Regions from separate parts of the Homo sapiens genome. Here region 2 is linked to region 1. Evidence: fine-mapped expression QTL. A gene starts in region 1. The other region holds a variant in brackets. All regions are shown on one strand. Distances are between the middles of the regions.

What was found.
Region 2: its variant is fine-mapped to the expression of PHGDH in esophagus mucosa (GTEx, PIP 0.95).

The regions. Positions count from the first base shown.
Region 1 is chr1:119,708,075-119,716,410 of GRCh38, forward strand. PHGDH (phosphoglycerate dehydrogenase) reads left to right here and starts at 3,860. Exons shown (of 12, transcript NM_006623.4): 1 at 3,860-4,086. The coding sequence starts at 3,949. LOC105378937 (a long non-coding RNA gene) reads right to left here and starts at 3,772. Exons shown (of 3, transcript XR_947757.4): 1 at 3,660-3,772. RefSeq lists enhancers at 3,652-4,181, 3,663-3,712, 3,853-4,132, 4,183-4,272 and a silencer at 4,413-4,512.
Region 2 is chr1:119,671,111-119,679,446 of GRCh38, forward strand. LOC124904390 (a long non-coding RNA gene) reads left to right here. Exons shown (of 2, transcript XR_007066508.1): 2 at 1-404. Among named protein-coding and RNA genes, the nearest start is that of ZNF697, 27 kb to the left of the region's middle. RefSeq lists enhancers at 4,516-5,017, 8,125-8,336. The variant C/T (reference allele first, on the strand shown) is at 3,238.

The sequences.
Region 1 (8,336 bases):
ATTTCCAACCCCCTCAGCAGTGCCTGACACATTACAGTTTCAATAAATATACACTGATTGAGTGGATGAATGAAGGAAAGTCAAGCACTAGAGATTACACTCACTTGTATGCTTTGCCTTATTTAATCCCTACAAAAGCCTTATGAAGTAAGCACTATCATACTATTCATTCCATATTACATAGGAGAAAACTAAGTCTTAGGGGGGCAATGTAATTTGCCCAAAATCACATTGTTCATAACTTGAGAAGCTGAAATTCAAATCAAGATATGCCTGTTTTACGGATGACAGTTCATTTTCTGCATCTTAAAATATCATTTTATTTCTTTTTTTATTATACTTTAAGTTCTAGGGTACATGTGCACGACATGCAGGTTTGTTACATATTTTATTTCTTATGATTCGAGTTTGGATATCACAGCTGGTCTCCAAGCAGAAAAAGAGAGTTCCTACTCTCCTCCCCTTAACCCCATTAACTTTATCCTCAGAGTTACAGGCGGAACAGCTGGACATCTTGCAACCTTAGGTAGGGGTAGGTCTTGCCTTGACAGATTCACTACACACAAGGAAGCAGGAGTGTGTACATTATTTTAGGCTTCCAGCTTCGAAAGAGAGAGCCAAAAGGGGCTGGCCTGGGCACGCACTAGGACCTTTTCCCCAAACTTCACTAATCAGAGTGGTTTTCTCTTCTGAAGGGGTTGGGGCCAGAGGAAGGGAGAGAAGGAGGGGTCTGAGGAGAAGGGCAGAACTGTTTTCCTACTACTTCCAAGCTGGCCAAAGTTCCTGTTTTATGGATGGATGCAATAACACAGGGAGAGGGAGAAATTTCCCCAACTCCAACCCTCAGTTATCAAAGAAAAACCCTTAGTTTGCAATTGATGTTGGAGATTCTGGGGTGTAGTGGTGAGGGATATATCTGTATTGGCAGTATCAGGTCTCAGCCCGACCAGCAACACATTTGATGATATCGCTTCTAAAAATCACTCGGTACCTCTGTACTAACTTTGGAGTCAAGTTTAAACTCCTCCTCAGGGCAAGACACTTCATGAGCAGCCCCTGGCCCCTCTGCAGTCTCACCTCCTGGTATCCCACTGGCATCCCCCACAGCCATGGTAGAGAAGCCATGAACATGTTGCAACTCCTCACAACTCTAAGCCTTTGGAAATGTCATTTCTTCTCCCCCGGCTAATTCATATTCAGCTCTCAAGATTAGGCAGTTAACCATGAGCAGCTTCAAGGCAGGTTATGTTTTACCTATCTCTGTATCCTTGAGCCTCTCAAAGTAGCTGCCTTGAATGAGTTTCAAAAGGTTAGCTGAAAGGCAACCTTGCTTGGAAATCCTCCTGGCACCTCAGGAGATGGTTCTCCTCCTTGCTCCCAAAGCCCTCCAGCACACCTTTATTTATAATTCTTAAACTATACCTTTTTAATTTTTTTTATTATTTTTTAGAGACAGGTCTCACTCTGTTGCCCAGGTTGGAGTGCAGTGGCACAATCATGGTTCACTGCAGCCTCGAACTCCTGGGCTCAAGCAATCCTCCTGCCTCAGCCTCCCAAGTAGATAGGACTACAGCAATGTGCCACCATGCCGGGGTACTCTTCTTAAAATGTTGTTCTTTTTTCTTTTTGAGGAAAGAAGGCTGTGTCTTATGTGTCACAGGGCCTAGCCCATAGGAGGTACTGGATAAATTAATTTTTGAATCAAACCTCTTCTGAGCCTCTGTGATGTGGAAGGCATGGTGCTAGGCACTACTGGGGGTATACAAAATCGTGTCTCTGATTTAAGGAAATGAGAGTTCATGGGGAACAAGACATGAAAAGTTCATAAATATATTGCTTAAGGCACTGTGAGATAACTTGAAGTTAATTCTATAGAAATTTAAAAGGAGGGAACATTTCTGACTTATGTAACAATTATCACACACCCTCCTTTTCACTTGGAAATGGACTCTTAATCTGTTAATTATTTTCTTAACGGTTTAGAAGTGTCTTTTATTGTGTGGCTTGGATCTGTTTAAAAAGTAGGTGGGTCATAAATAATAAATAAAGAAAACAGGTGATCAGGCTTAGGAGGCCCTCTGGGTTGTGCGTTCAGACAGTATCCAAGAAGTTTGACTTGGTGTGAAAGGGTGGGATTACATGTTAATGATAGCAGGGTTTAGATTCTACACTGAAAGGAAGCAGTTAGTGAGCCCTGGGAGGAGTTGAAGGAAAGCAGTTACAAAAATGGATGCTTCCCAAGACCCTCCATTAAGCCTCCTGGGATAGGTCCCCTGTCTGTCCCTAGACTCCAGGGTACTGCTGGGCACTTCAAGAGAGACAGAGAATTTGAATACTCATGAGTCTTGGAATGTAGGAATAACAATTCATCCGAACAAGCAAACATGATAGACAATTTTTTTTTTTACCCACTGAGGACATTGTGTCTAAAAATCTGATTTGTGCCCAGGAATTATCTGTATAGAATTTTCATTACTTTATAGAATTGATATTGCATAGTTCTGTAGGATAAGGATCTAGCACTTGAGTTATGAATAGCTCAGGATGACATAACACACAATGGTTAGTTGGACTGGATATGTCCATAAAGCTGAATTCTAATTCAACTATGAGCATCTCTGATTCTGCTTCTGATTCTAGGTGACTTTAATCCCAAATTGAATTTTCTGACATTTCTGTAAAATGGGGCATGAGAGAGCACGTCGGTTATGGGGTTTAAATATAAAAGAGTTAAGAGCTGAGAAGTGCCTCCTTGGTCAATTAAACCACACTGACATCCCGTTTTCCTTTTCTTCTTTTTCATAATTAGAGAGGAAGTGGAGGGAAAGGAAATAAATAACTTTAACAAAGTATGCCTAGTTTAAATGCACCAGGTCCCCGCTCTTTTATAAACTCATAATTCTCATTGCATCACTAATTTGAAATTAATCACAGCTCCTTGGTGTCTCAGAAAGCTTCCTATTGCTTTTCACTACGTAACTTTCCAAGTCTGTGTGTTTGGTACTCTAGGATGTTAGGCCACCAGAGGAAAGAGGATGTATCTTTTTTTTTTTTATACTTTAAGTTTTAGGGTACATGTGCACAATGCGCAGGTTAGTTACATATGTATACATGTGCCATGCTGGTGTGCTGCACCCATTAACTCGTCATTTAGCATTAGGTATATCTCCTAATGCTATCCCTCCCCCCCTCCCCCCACCCCACAACAGTCCCCAGAGTGTGATGTTCCCCTTCCTGTGTCCATGTGTTCTCATTGTTCAATTCCCACCTATGAGTGAGAATATGCGGTGTTTGGTTTTTTGTTCTTGCGATAGTTTACTGAGAATGATGATTTCCAATTTCATCCATGTCCCTACAAAGGACATGAACTCATCATTTTTTATGGCTGCATAGTATTCCATGGTGTATATGTGCCATATTTTCTTAATCCAGTCTATCATTGTTGGACATTTTCTTTTTGATAGTCGAATTCCCTTCAACGTCTAGCACAGTGCCTTGCACATTTACCCACTCAAAAAAAATTTCGTAAGGAATTAATAAATGAATCCTTAGGAGGAAAAGTGAAAATGAAGTTTTTCTCTCAGGATGAGGTGTATTTCTCCGTTCATTTCAGATATGCATCAGCTAGTCAGCGTAAATTGTGCTTTTTATATGCTCACCAGGTGTAGGTAAGAGCTTTGGCTGAGATGGAGAAATTCATCGCGGGAGGATAATAAAGCGGGCAGGGATTTGGCAACCTCAGAGCCGCGAGGAGGAGGCGGAGTCGCGGAGAGTTTGAGTATTTCCGTCCAATCAAAAGGAGACTGTAAGAGGAGGAGGAGGAGGAGATGACTGGGGAGCGGGAGCTGGAGAATACTGCCCAGTTACTCTAGCGCGCCAGGCCGAACCGCAGCTTCTTGGCTTAGGTACTTCTACTCACAGCGGCCGATTCCGAGGCCAACTCCAGCAATGGCTTTTGCAAATCTGCGGAAAGTGCTCATCAGTGACAGCCTGGACCCTTGCTGCCGGAAGATCTTGCAAGATGGAGGGCTGCAGGTGGTGGAAAAGCAGAACCTTAGCAAAGAGGAGCTGATAGCGGAGCTGCAGGTAAGGCGAGAGAGAGAAAATTGAGGTCTCTAGGGCAACCTCCATGGAAAAAGGCTGGCTGCGCCCAGGCCAGCGCGCCCCCCTCGCATGCACCCCGTATCAATTAGTTCCGGGGCCTCCTGAGATTGGGGGGTAGAGAAGAACGGGGGCGGGAGGAGGCAGAAAGAGGGAAGAACAAACGGCGGCGAGATGCAAACTTTTCTTTTAGTTTGCAACCGCGTCTTTCACGTTGGCATGCCTCCGCTAGCATTGCAAAGTGCGGGCTGCTCCAACTGGTCCTGCAGGCTGCTCGCGGATGCCAGCGCGGGATGCCAGCGCGGCGCCCCAGCGCCTTAGCGCGCAATTGTTCTGGCAGCCTCGCGCCGCCTCTCCCCCAACCCCCAACCGCCTCCGCGCGGGGCGATCGGGAGAGGGGCCCCAAAGTGGCTTCTTTGCGGGGAACCCAGGGACTGGCGATTCTTCCCAACCAAGTTCTGGGCCGCCCCGCCGATTCTAGCCTGCCTTGGCGGTGGCGGGGTTGGGGGGGTCGGGGGGCGGGGGGAAGCTGGCGGAGACCCAACCAGTCTGGTGGCTGCTGGGGCAGCTGGAGGGGAAGGCAGCCCTCGTAAGGCAGCAAACACGTACCCGCCCCTCGTCTGATGCAAGACTGCTCCGTGCTTTCGCCGCCCCTCTGCCTCCTGGGAGCCTTCGGAGGAAAGGGAGGCGGGCGGGGAGCGCTGGGGTCCAGATTTAGCCTCCTCCCCACCTTTGGTTTATCGCTGGTTGGGAGTGACCAGACTCGACTAGAATCCGATCCCAAACGCTCCCAGATGATTTATAGTCTTAGCAAATTTTTATCTCCTTTTGTTGTGATATATAATTAATCTACTTCAAATCTTTATCCACCGTGTTTGAAAAGGCCTGCTGGGCCTGGTGGCCTTGTCCGGAATATTTATTTTGTGAACTCTTCACTCCAGTGCCTGCACTTTCGACCTCTGTAGTCGACCCAGCTGCCCAGTCTCTACCTCACCTGATCCAGTATATTCTCCCCCACCCTCCAAATCGCACAACCGCCTTCTGCCCGCCTCAGCCCTGTCCACCACCTTCAGCCGTCTCCTCCTCCGAGGACCCCTTAGACCGCAGAGGCTGCTGTTGTTGCTTTAGTTGTGCCACAACCACGTGGTCCTGGAAACTGCCTCGCTCACTTTGTCTGCCTTTGTATCTGCTGGCGTGGATCTTGTCACCATGGCATGACACTATATCCAAGTATCCAGCTCTGCCCTGTACTCAGAAGAATTTGGTCCCTGCCTTCAAGAAGTTTGTAAGCTGGTTAGGGAGCATGGCTAATACGCAGGAGACAGTTGAGCAGATGACACAAGAGCATAGCCCCGAATTAGACCATCCAGCTCCCTAACCTTTGCGTGTTCCCCTTCTGGAAAAGCCAGAGAAAGGTCCAATCATCATGCACAGAATTGGTGGGCAAGGGCTTAGGACTTGAGTAGGATTGGACGGGTGGCAGGCTCCTCACATCTGTCACCTCCTTTCTTGTGTGAAATTGTATCAGTGGCTCTGGGGAACAACCAGGAAAGGCAGTGGGGTGTCCTGCAGAACAGCCTCTGACTCTCACCTCCACCAGAGCACCAGGTTGGGAAGAGGGTGGCAATCAAGTGCTTTCACCTCTCTAAAGGAAATTAGAAACCTGATACCCCAGTGAGGGGGTGGGGATAGGGAGGGATGAGGGCAGAATTGAGAGGAATGGGAGGCCTCATCCATAATGAGGGGTTGTTCCATGAAGTCAGGAATCAGCTGGGTGGATGCTGGGAGTCTGGTGCTGAAACTTGGAGAACATTTTAAAGGCGCTGAAAACTCTTGGCAGGAGAGGAGGAGTGTTTGTTGGCTAACTTGACTGCTGGGCATTTTTGGACTGTTTGGGAGGGCTCAGCTTTCTTGTCTGTCTTTGCAACACATTTGGTTCAGAATGCCAATTAATCTCCTTGGTCAGCCCACTGAAGGGTCCTCATTTCTACACTATGCCTTTTTATTCTGCATGAAGAGGTGTCTGGCATAGTGTCTCCTGCCCTCCCCCACTGAAGTCTCTTTAATGCTGAAGGAAGCTTCGGCAGCGTTGCTAGAACCGGGCCTGGCCTTGGTTCCCACTGCCTTGTATTCTGGGCAGGCGGTCTCCTCTCACTCACCCCCTGGTCAGGAAGTACAATCATTCCTCCCTGCCCTTTCAGTGGTGCTTTTCAGACTTGGAGCAAGTCATAGTTCAGTTTAAGGGGTCATGACGAGCATTTTAAAAAACAAAGTAGGAAATATCAGACAGCAATGCAGATAGATAGTAAGGTTGTAAGTATTGTTTCATGAATTTTGTTTCATTTATGTTGTGTAGTTGTATGTGTGTGGCATGTGAGTATGAAATTACAACTTAAAAATGTGTTTCTTGGCCGGGCGCGGTGGCTCACGCCTGTAATCCCAACACTTTGGGAGGGGCCAAAGGAGGCAGATCATTTGAACTGAGGAGGTTGAGACCAGACTGGGCAACATGGCAAAACCCTGTCTCTACAAAAAATACGAACATTAGCTAAGCATCTTGCACAAGCCTGTAGTCTCAGCTACTGGGGGATGGGGTGGAGGGCTGAGGCCCTGGTTGCTGTCACTCTTCCCAACCTGGTGCTCTAGTGGGAGGATCGCTTGAGCCTAGGAGTTTGAGGCTGCAGTAAGCCATGATCTCGCCACTGCAATCCAGCCTGGGCAACAGAGCTAGACCCTGTCCCACCCCTCCACCAACAAAGATGTGTTTCTTACAATGAACCTCAGTCAAAAAAGTTTGGAAAACGTTGGCTTAAAATAATAAAGCATCTTGTTTGGAACTCACATCTTAAATATACCTAATATGCCGGAAAATATTTAAATAATATTACCATGTATCAGTGGCTTTTAAACTTTGACTGTGACCCACAATAAGAAATTTGTTTTATGTCATAACTTAAACACTCATACATATGTGTACACACAGACACACACAAATTTTATGAAATAATACTTACTCTTTTTACATATGATGCATTCTGGTATTTTCTTCTGTTTCATTAAGTAGCATTGCTGGTCAGGACCACTAAACTAAACACTGGTAATGGTATTTAATTTACTGAAGCACATCCATACCTTCATATCAGTACTTGAAGAAAGATTAAGAAGGGAATAAATCTTTCCATGCCAAATTTCTTTTCAAATTTCTTTAAAATAGGAAGTTCCCAGCCTTTACACAAGGATTTAGTTTGCAAAAGTTAAATAACCATCAAATTAATCAGGATCACACATCTTGTGCAAAACAGGGTAGACCTGCCTTCCCTATAGCTGGGGAACATGACCTGGATAGTTTCATTGTCTTGCCCTATGATTTAAGTCAGAGGCATGGCAATGCTAGAATTACCTCCTAGGCCAAGCTTGTCCCCTTGGGAAAGGAAGCATGTGTGAACCTGAGGAATGGCAATGGATTCCCATTGCTGAGTTAGCAGTTTGTCTCGAACAGCCATAAATCAAGCAGTTTTCTAGCTGAACAGCAGCTAAGGACAGGGGAGCGGGAGGACTTGTAGGAAGTGTGGGAAGTGCCTGTTCCCGCCACAGTGCAGACACAGAAGCCACACGCAGAGGGCAGTGAACATCAGAATTTGGTGCTGTGTAGAGAGAGACTTGCTTCCTCACCCAAGGAATGACAAAGAGAGGGGAGGATCTCTGGACACTGGAGAAGTTTTAATCGCAAACTGCAGAGGATGTGAGCAGATGGGTGCATTTGGTTAGGGCTGTGGTTTCCATAAGTAGAGGACAGGAGCAGACAGCTTGGGGCAAAGTCTTTGAAGGGGGTGCGTTGTGGCGTGAGGAGGGAAGGGGCTTGGGTGCAGGGGCTTTGAGGGTCCAGCAGGAGGTAGGTTGGATTCAGGCTGTCTGTGAATATGTGCTGATTGAATGAGTGGATAGAGTGGGTAGTTGAGGTTGTAAGAGGCCTTGGAAGCTCATTAACTCTGACTGATGTGGGATGTCTGGTTCTAATGTGGGACCAAGGTCTCCTGAGTGACAGTTTCTGCCCTTGGGAGAGGTGAGACCTGATGCTCATCTGTAGGAGTCTGACTGGGGACTCTTAGTTTCCCTGGCACCAAAGAAGGCTGGTTTGAGGGAAAAGTGAAGAGACTACAGCATAAATCTTTACAAGGGAGATCCATCCAGAGAGTCCATGCTCATGAAAGAAACAATAGTGCTGTTTCTGTGCT
Region 2 (8,336 bases), 37 kb before region 1:
CTCACAGGTCCTAGAGGGAGGAGGGCAGCACACCAATAGGAATTGAGAGCCACCTGGTACAAAAAAGCCCAACTAGTATTTAAAATGGATGCCGAGACAACATAAAATGACAATAATTCACTACCATCCCTTACAAACTATGATTTGTAAATATTTTCTCCCATTACCTAAGCTATCTTTTTACTTTCTTGATGATATTCTTTGAAACACAAAATTTTTTATTTAAAGAAGTCTAATTTATTTTTATTGTTGTTGTTGCTTATATCTTGAGTGTTGTATGTAAGAAGGGTTTGCCTACACCAAAGTCACAAAGATTTACTCCTATATTTTCTCCTAAGAGTTTTATAGTTTTAGCTCTTAAATTTAGATCTCTGGTCCGTTTTAATAAATTTTTATAAATGGTATGAGGAAGGGTCCAACTTTGTTCTTTTACACGTAGGTACCCAGCAGTTCCAGCATCAATTTTTGAAAAGATTATTCTTTCTCTCATTGAATTGTCTTGACTCCCTTATTGAAAATCAATTGACCATAATTATAAGGGGTTATATCTGGATTCTCGATTCTGAACTATTGATTTATAAGTCTATCTTTATGCCAGCACCACACTGTCTTAATTACTATAGTTCTGTAGTACATTTTAAAATCAGGAAGTGGGGATCCTATAACTTTTTCCTTTTTTTCAAGATTATTTTGGCTATTCTGGATGCCTCACATTTGTACATGAATTTTGTGTTTAGTTTCTCAATTTTTGCATACAAGCCAGCTGGGATTTTTAGGGATTGTGTTGGATCTGTACATCAATTTAGGGAGAATTGTCATCTTAACAGTATCTAGTCTTCTGATCCATGAGCATGTATGTCTTTCCATTTATTTGGATCTTCTTTAAGTTCTTTCAACAATGTTTTCTAATTTTTAGAGTACAAGATTTACCCTACTTTGGGAGGCTGGGGCTGGAGGATCACTTGAGCCCCACAGTTCAAGGCTACAGTGATTTATGATCATGCCACTGTGCTCCAGCCTGGGTGACAGAGAGAGACTCTGTCTCTAAAACAACAACAATAAAAAACAAACAAACAAAAATGACTTACTTTTGTCTTACTAAATTTATTCCTATTTCTATTTTATAATTCCTATTTTCTTGATGCTGCTGTCACTGGAATTATTTTCTAATTTCTTCAGATTTTTAATAAAGCATGTAGAAGTACAATTCATTTTGTGTGTTAATCTTTTTATTTTTATTTCTTTCCTTTTTTTTTTAAGAGACATAAGCTCGCTATGTTGCCCAGGCTGCTCTCAAATTTGTGGCCTCAAGAGATCATCCTGCCTTGGCCTTCCAAAGCTCTGGGATTACAGGCACAAGCTAATATACCTGGACCACTTTGTTTATTAATCTTAAATCTTACAATTTTTCTGAACTCATTTATTAGTTCTAATAGTTTAAGTAAATTTCTTAGTATTTTCTATATGCAAGATCATGTCATCTGCAAATAGAAAGAGTTAGTTTTACTTTTTCCTTTCCGATCTGGATGCATTTTGTTTTATTTTCTTGCCTACTTGCCCTTCCAGCACACTACTGAATAGAAGTGGTGAGAGCAGACATTCTTGTCTTATTCCTGAAAGAGGAAGTACTTGCTTTAGTCATAAAGCTATAATAGCTAAAACAATAATTGTGGTTCTGGCATAAGAAAAGATAGGCAAATCAATGAAATAAAAAGAATAGCTCAGAAGCAGATACTAAAACAGAGAAGTTAAAATATCATGAGGGAAGCGCTACAAATCAGTGGTGGAAGGTTGAACTACTGGATAAATTGTGGCTCTAAAAAACTAGTTGGATGTTTTGGGGAAAAATCAATTAAGGGATTCACATGATACATCAATATACAATTTTAATGGATAAGAATTAAATATAGAGAAACACATCACACCATTAGTAAATATAAAATATAAAAGCAACGCCTGGATGAAAATCAAATCTCCAGATAAGAAAGAACATTTCGAAATGGCTTTCCAAATTTTTAAGTTATCATGTTTTTTGACTCGGCAATTTAACTAAAAGAATGCAAACATCATCTTTATGGATCTCAGACAATTGACTAGCTTTCTCATTGCTACATTTGCGGATGGTAGAAAGTCAATACATACTTATGAATTTAAAAAAAAGTTGTACAAAAACTTAAAGGTGTACGTTCAGGAAGGATGTCATAGCGGTGCCATTTGCGTGAGTCAGTAGCCAACAGTCACCCTATGCCTTGAGATTTAAATGAAGTTCACCTGGGAATCCTAACCCTGTCAGATGTACATTGCCCTCCCTGTGATTTCTGTGAGTTATGGCAGTTTTATTTTCTCACAGTTCTTTCTATCTTGCTCAGAGCTCTGGTTCTGTCTCAAGCCCACTTGCATCTCACCTCTTTTAGCCTGTCTTGTCTTTTTGACTTGAACCAATGTACATGTGAAATTCAATACCCTTTCCTTACCTATCTTTTCAAGATAAAACAAGACAAAGCAGAACAACAAAAACACCTCCCAAGCCATCTGAATGTGGATTTTTTACAACCACACAAACTGACTCATTCAAAAATTAATATTAGACTTTCTCATACATAAAGGCCCTTTGTCCTCTTGTCCTCTTTCCCATGAAGAATTTCTCACTGGCCACATTTCTCCATGGGCTCTGGTATCCTGCTTGTCACTTGACCTTCTCTCTCCACCTCAAGCATTTCCTGACATTTTATCAGTTCTGTGTTTTCAGGATTTGCTTTCCCATGGACTATTTAGAGACAGTCAAAATACCCAAGGGGAATAAAATCAAGCTTTTAAAGAATTAAAATAAGTTTTATTCACAGTCCTTACTGAGGACTATAGACTGAGGCCCATAGCCCAGGAGGAGTCTTTCAGAGAGGTCTGTCGGACTCCTCTAAAGCAGTGTTTCAGCCCATTGGTAGGTAGGTGGTGGAGGTTAAGTATATGCAAAATCACATCTATGTTTGGGTGCAAGAGTACATTTGATTACAGTTTACTAAAGCACATTTGGTTATAGGTAGTAGAAGCATAGTGACTAAGCCCATGAGATGTTATCGTGTGTAAGAAAAGGCAAGGGCTAGCTAGGGTCAATTAACTTTTAAGAAATATAGTGACTCAGACAAGAGGCATGGGGGATGTGCTCTATCCTGTTTTGTCAAAGTATCTTTCTGGAGAGCTGCAGGCCTCACAATCAGGGGCTTTGTAAAATTACCCTGG[C/T]AAGCAGAAACAGGCAAACACCGCTCCTTCCGTTTGTTTGCTACTTTGTCTCTCGGTATGCAGAACAATTCTGCTTTCTAACCCTCTCCATTCCTGGACCTTCTTTGCATGTCTAAAGCTTTGATAACATCTAGACTACTGGAGGGACCATTAATTTGGCCTCAAGCTTTAACAGTACAGAAAATGGGTGGAGGTTTCCACATTTCAGACTTCCTTTTCTCTTTTACCCACCAAGATTTACAAGTAAAAGGAAGCAATATGGATACTTGTTTTCCCTCTGCTATGAAATATGCCTTTCTTCTTCCCTTACAAGTGGCTACAGACAGTTTGGGTTTTAAATATTTTTTTTCACCAAGCTACATTTGTAAAAGTAAGAAAATTAAAAATGATCCAAATGATCATCCATAGAAGATACCAGGTTAAATAAATCATGATACAATAGACTGAAGGATGTAATCGGTCCAGATGTTCTGAAATGGAAAGATGACCAAAATCTATTGTTAAGATACAACAACAACAACAAAAATGTAAGTTGAAAAGCCAGTTGCCCGAACGTATGTGTAATATGAAACCATTTGGCAATGTCTGGATGCATTATTGGTTGTCACAACTAGGCGGTGGTGGTGGTGGTGGTGAGGCTACTACTGGCCTCTAGTGGGCAGAGGCCAGGGTTGCTGCTTATCATTCTACAATCCACAGGGCAGCTTTCCAAAGAATTTGCTGGCCGCAAATACCAACAGGTCTGAGATTAAGAAACCCTGTTCTAGATGAATATACACCAAACTTTCAACAGTGGATATCTCCAAGAGTTGAATTATAGAGGAATTATACTTTTTCTAAATTTTTAATCTATTCGCATTTCTTGTAACGAGCTTATTATATTCAGAAAAAAATGTGAAAAGCTATAAACAGTTGGAAGAGCTTGCACATAAAAAAATAAATATTTCTAATCAAATTACACAGAAGATGAGCAGATAGGGAGAGAGCAGTGCCACAGAATCTAGGACAGGAGAGACCTCCCTTCCCAAGGACACCCAGTTGGGAGGGAACTCAGGTAAGAATCAGCCCTTCATTCAAATGGAGGAATTTCCTCCCGAGAGCACATCTCACCAATAGCCAGTTCTTTCCTAGTCTCACGGGGCGGTGCTCTGTCTTCGGAGATTACGGGTGGTCGAAGGGGAGGGAGGCCGGGTGTGGAAGCTTGTGTTCCTCCCTGTCTGAACATGATACCCAGAATCCAGGGGTTTGGAGAATGTAACTGTTAGGTGCTTAATAGAACATAAAAGTACACGTGAAATAGAAGTCATAGTGCTATTTATTCTTCCACGGGGCAAATTTCCCTTTTTAATTTTTCTCTAGTTGTTTTGTTACACTGGAATCTCTTGAGCGCCATCTGGTGGACAGATTTCCATCACCCAATCAGATGGTCAGCCTTCCCCACAAACATTTTAGTCACACTATGCCTCTGTCCGGCAGGATCATGTCTTGTCTTCAATGCCCCAGCACTTTGTGCAGTTGACACATTATAGGTAACCAGAGTCTGTTTGTTGAAGTAGTAAACATTGGTCCATTAGAAGCTGGGAGTGAATATTGAAGTCAGGTATGAATTGGCATTGGGAAGAAGGAGCTGAAAAGCAGGAATAAGCTGTCCTGATTGTGAAGGGTGAGTGCAATGCCGGACTGAGAAATAAAACTAACTCCAGGCCAAAGAGCGTTGGAGATTCCCAACAGGCTCCCCAAGGACACACAGGGAGCCCAGTAGAATTTTCCTGGAGCCTACTGAATTTCTGCTAGGAGTGGACTCGGCCCTCTGCCCAAATGAGGTGCCATGAGGTACACAAAGGCTCTAATATGTAATTTGACACTTCCCTGGGTAAAACAGAAAGTACACTGGCCAGACCCCAAAGTAAACTTACGTACTTCCTCTTTACCCCTTTTTTTCTGCTTTAAAAAATCTCAGCGATTCTTTCCTGCCTTTCTTTTTTTTTTTTTTTTTGAGACGGGGTCTCGCTCTGTCACTCAGGCTGCAGTGCAGTGATGCGATCTCGGCTCACTGCAAGCTCCACCTCCCGAGTTCACACCATTCTCCTGCCTCAGCCTCCCGAGTAGCTGGGACTACAGGCGCCCGCCACCACGCCCGGCTAATTTTTTATATTTTTAGTAGAGACGGGGTTTCACTGTGTTAGCTAGGATGGTCTTGATCTCCTGACCTTGTGATCCGCCCGCCTCGGCCTCCCAGAGTGCTGGGATTACAGGCGTGAGCCACTGCGCCCGGCCTCTTTCCTGTCTTTCAGCTCTGCTCCTCTCAATTCCCCAATAACACAATCCCTAGTCTCCTAAGAGTGGGCCCCAGGATAGTCTGCAAACTCATCACCTTCTAAGGGGGACTGCTGTCACTGAGTGGTCCCAAGTGGGCACTAGAGGCCAGTGTTGCAATGTTTTCAGTCTTTTCAAAAGAAATAGAAATCTTTATTATCTTGTGAAATCCCTTAGTTTGGAGCCAATATTGGCTCCAATTACTTTTGAAACACTCCATGGGCCAAAAAGCACTTGTGTTTATGGCCAACAATTAGTAACCCATCAAAGAGGCTCTCTGGACTGAGTGTAGTGGCTAATGCCTGTAATCCCAGCACCTTGGGAGGCCAAAGTAGGAGGATCACTTGAGCCCAGGACTTGGAGACCAGCCTGAGCAACATAGCAAGACCCCGTCTCTACAAAATTTAAAAAATTAGCTGAGTGTAGTGGCGTGGGTCTGCGGTCCCAGCTACTTGGGAGGCTGAAGTGAGAGGATTGCTTAACCCAGAAGGTTGGGGCTTCAATGAGCCATATTCTTGGCACTGCACTCCAGTGTAAGTGATAGAATGAGACTCTGTCTCAAGAATAAAAAAATTAAAAAATTAAAAAAAGAAGATTTCTAAGCTTCTTCCCAACGTTTCTGACACACTGTGACTCTAACCTCTGCCCACATTTCTACATGGCTAATTTTTAAATAAGGTCAACTGCTGATCCTAGGTCAGCAAGAACCACAAGGTCAGGAGTGTTCTTTCTTCGAAGTTTCAGGTTAATCAGTTTCTGTTTAGGAAAAAGAACAAGACTTCTCTTTAGGTAAGGTATCTACCAGAGCAGCCCCCACTCCCACCCGAAAGTCACCTGAATACAGCTATTTCCTGTGCCTCTTTCTGCTACAAATCTCTGCAGCATGTTTTGTTTTATGCATCAAAACTAGATCGACCTCTGCATTCTGATCATTCCCCCACGGTGTTGTCTTTTTCCAAACTTTCTGTTTTCATTAACTTAAAGTCTATGATGCTATCAAACTGATTAAGCTCATTCCAACCAAGCACCACATGCTGAAGCTAGTGAATCACATTGCCAGTTGGGCTTTAAAAAGAACAGGTTTGAATGTACATCCTAATGTATTATATACTATATTGTGAATATGGATTGTGTTGAAGCTATAATTATGAGGGATTTAATACATTGGGGTCTACATTCAACCCCGATGTACACATACTTATATATATGTAAAATGTTTAGCCCATTAACTTTGCCTTGCTGACAGTTGTGGGAAAGTTTCTAGAGTTGTCAGTCACAAGGTCTTGTGAGAATCTGATCTAAGCAACTCAGCCTTCCCTCAAGAAAAAAGCACTCATAAGCAAACAATTTCCCAAAGTCTGTGCATAGACCCTTAGGCATACCTGAACCCCAGGTAAGAACTCCTGCTGTATCAGTGAGGGGCAAGGCAACTGCTCAGAGCCTGTAGGTCTCATTTAATTTGAAGGTGGCTGGTTGACCCTAAGCTCTTTCTCAGTACATCACGCCTTCCAGTAGAACTGAACCAAAACTCTAAGACACCCTGTTTATGCTCCCTTGGGAATTTAGGGCCCTTACCATGTATAGCTTCTCTGGGGTGGTTTCTGATGCTCATCAATTCTCTGACATCAACTGGGTATGTTACCAGTGGAAGATATCCTGGTTATCGGTGGCAAATTCATATGTGTCTGCAGCAACCTCAATTCTTGCCTCCTCAGAAGAAAGAATTCAACTGAGGGGCATAAGGCAGAAAAAAGACTGAGGCAAGTTTCATTGTAGGAGTGGAAGTTTATTAAAAAGCTTTAGAGCAGGAAAGGAAAGTGCTTTCGGAAGGGACGCAAGTGGGCACTGAGAAGGTCAAGTGCCTGGTTTAACCATCATCCTAGGACTTTATAGGCTGGCAAACTCTGGCGTCTTGCGCCCCCTTTCCATGATTCTTCCCTTAGGGTGTGTTGCCTGCATGCACAGTGCCCTCCTTACCCTTGGGAATTGAGCACATGCAGTGTGTTTAGGAAGTTGTATGCATGCCCATCTGAGACTTTCTTCCCTTTTCTGGTGGAGTGCCACCAGAAGGTCATACTCCACCATTTTGTCTCTTAATGCGCAGGCCTGGGAAATTGCCTCTCTGGTGTCTGCTGTCAATCAACACTTCAGTGCAATGGGTATGGACCATCAAGAAATGGCCTCTCTCTGGAGGCTGGCTGCCAATTTATCGCTTTTAGAGAGGCAACGTGATAATCATCAAACCGTCACCTGCCATTCCTGGTGGGTGGGGGAGAGCCCTCTCCTGCCCCACTCACGCCTAACTACCTGTAACAGGTATCAAAAATTCAATTATGACACTATCTGGAGTTAGTGCAGACACAGATTAAGGGCTCAGTCCTATAAGACTGCACTGACTTCAAATGTCAGTCTCATCTGGGCCAGGCCACCCATGCTTCTGACCTACCAGCTATAAATCAAGGATTCCCAAGATCCCCTCCTCAAGTTCAATAATTTGATATAAGAGCTCACAGAACTCAGAAAAACAGTTTACTTACATTTACTGACTTATTATAAAGGATACAACTCAGGAACAGCCAAATGGAAGAGACGCAGAGGGCAAGGTATGGGGGAGTAGGGTGAGGGTGGCACAGAGCTTCAATGGCCTCTCTGGGTGTGTCACCTCCCAGCACCCAGTAGCTCTCTGAATCTATTGTTCAAGAGTTTATAGAGCTCAACAGGTCAGAGGGTGGGGCTGAAAGTTCCAACCCTCCAATCACTTGGTCTTTTTAGTGACCATCCTA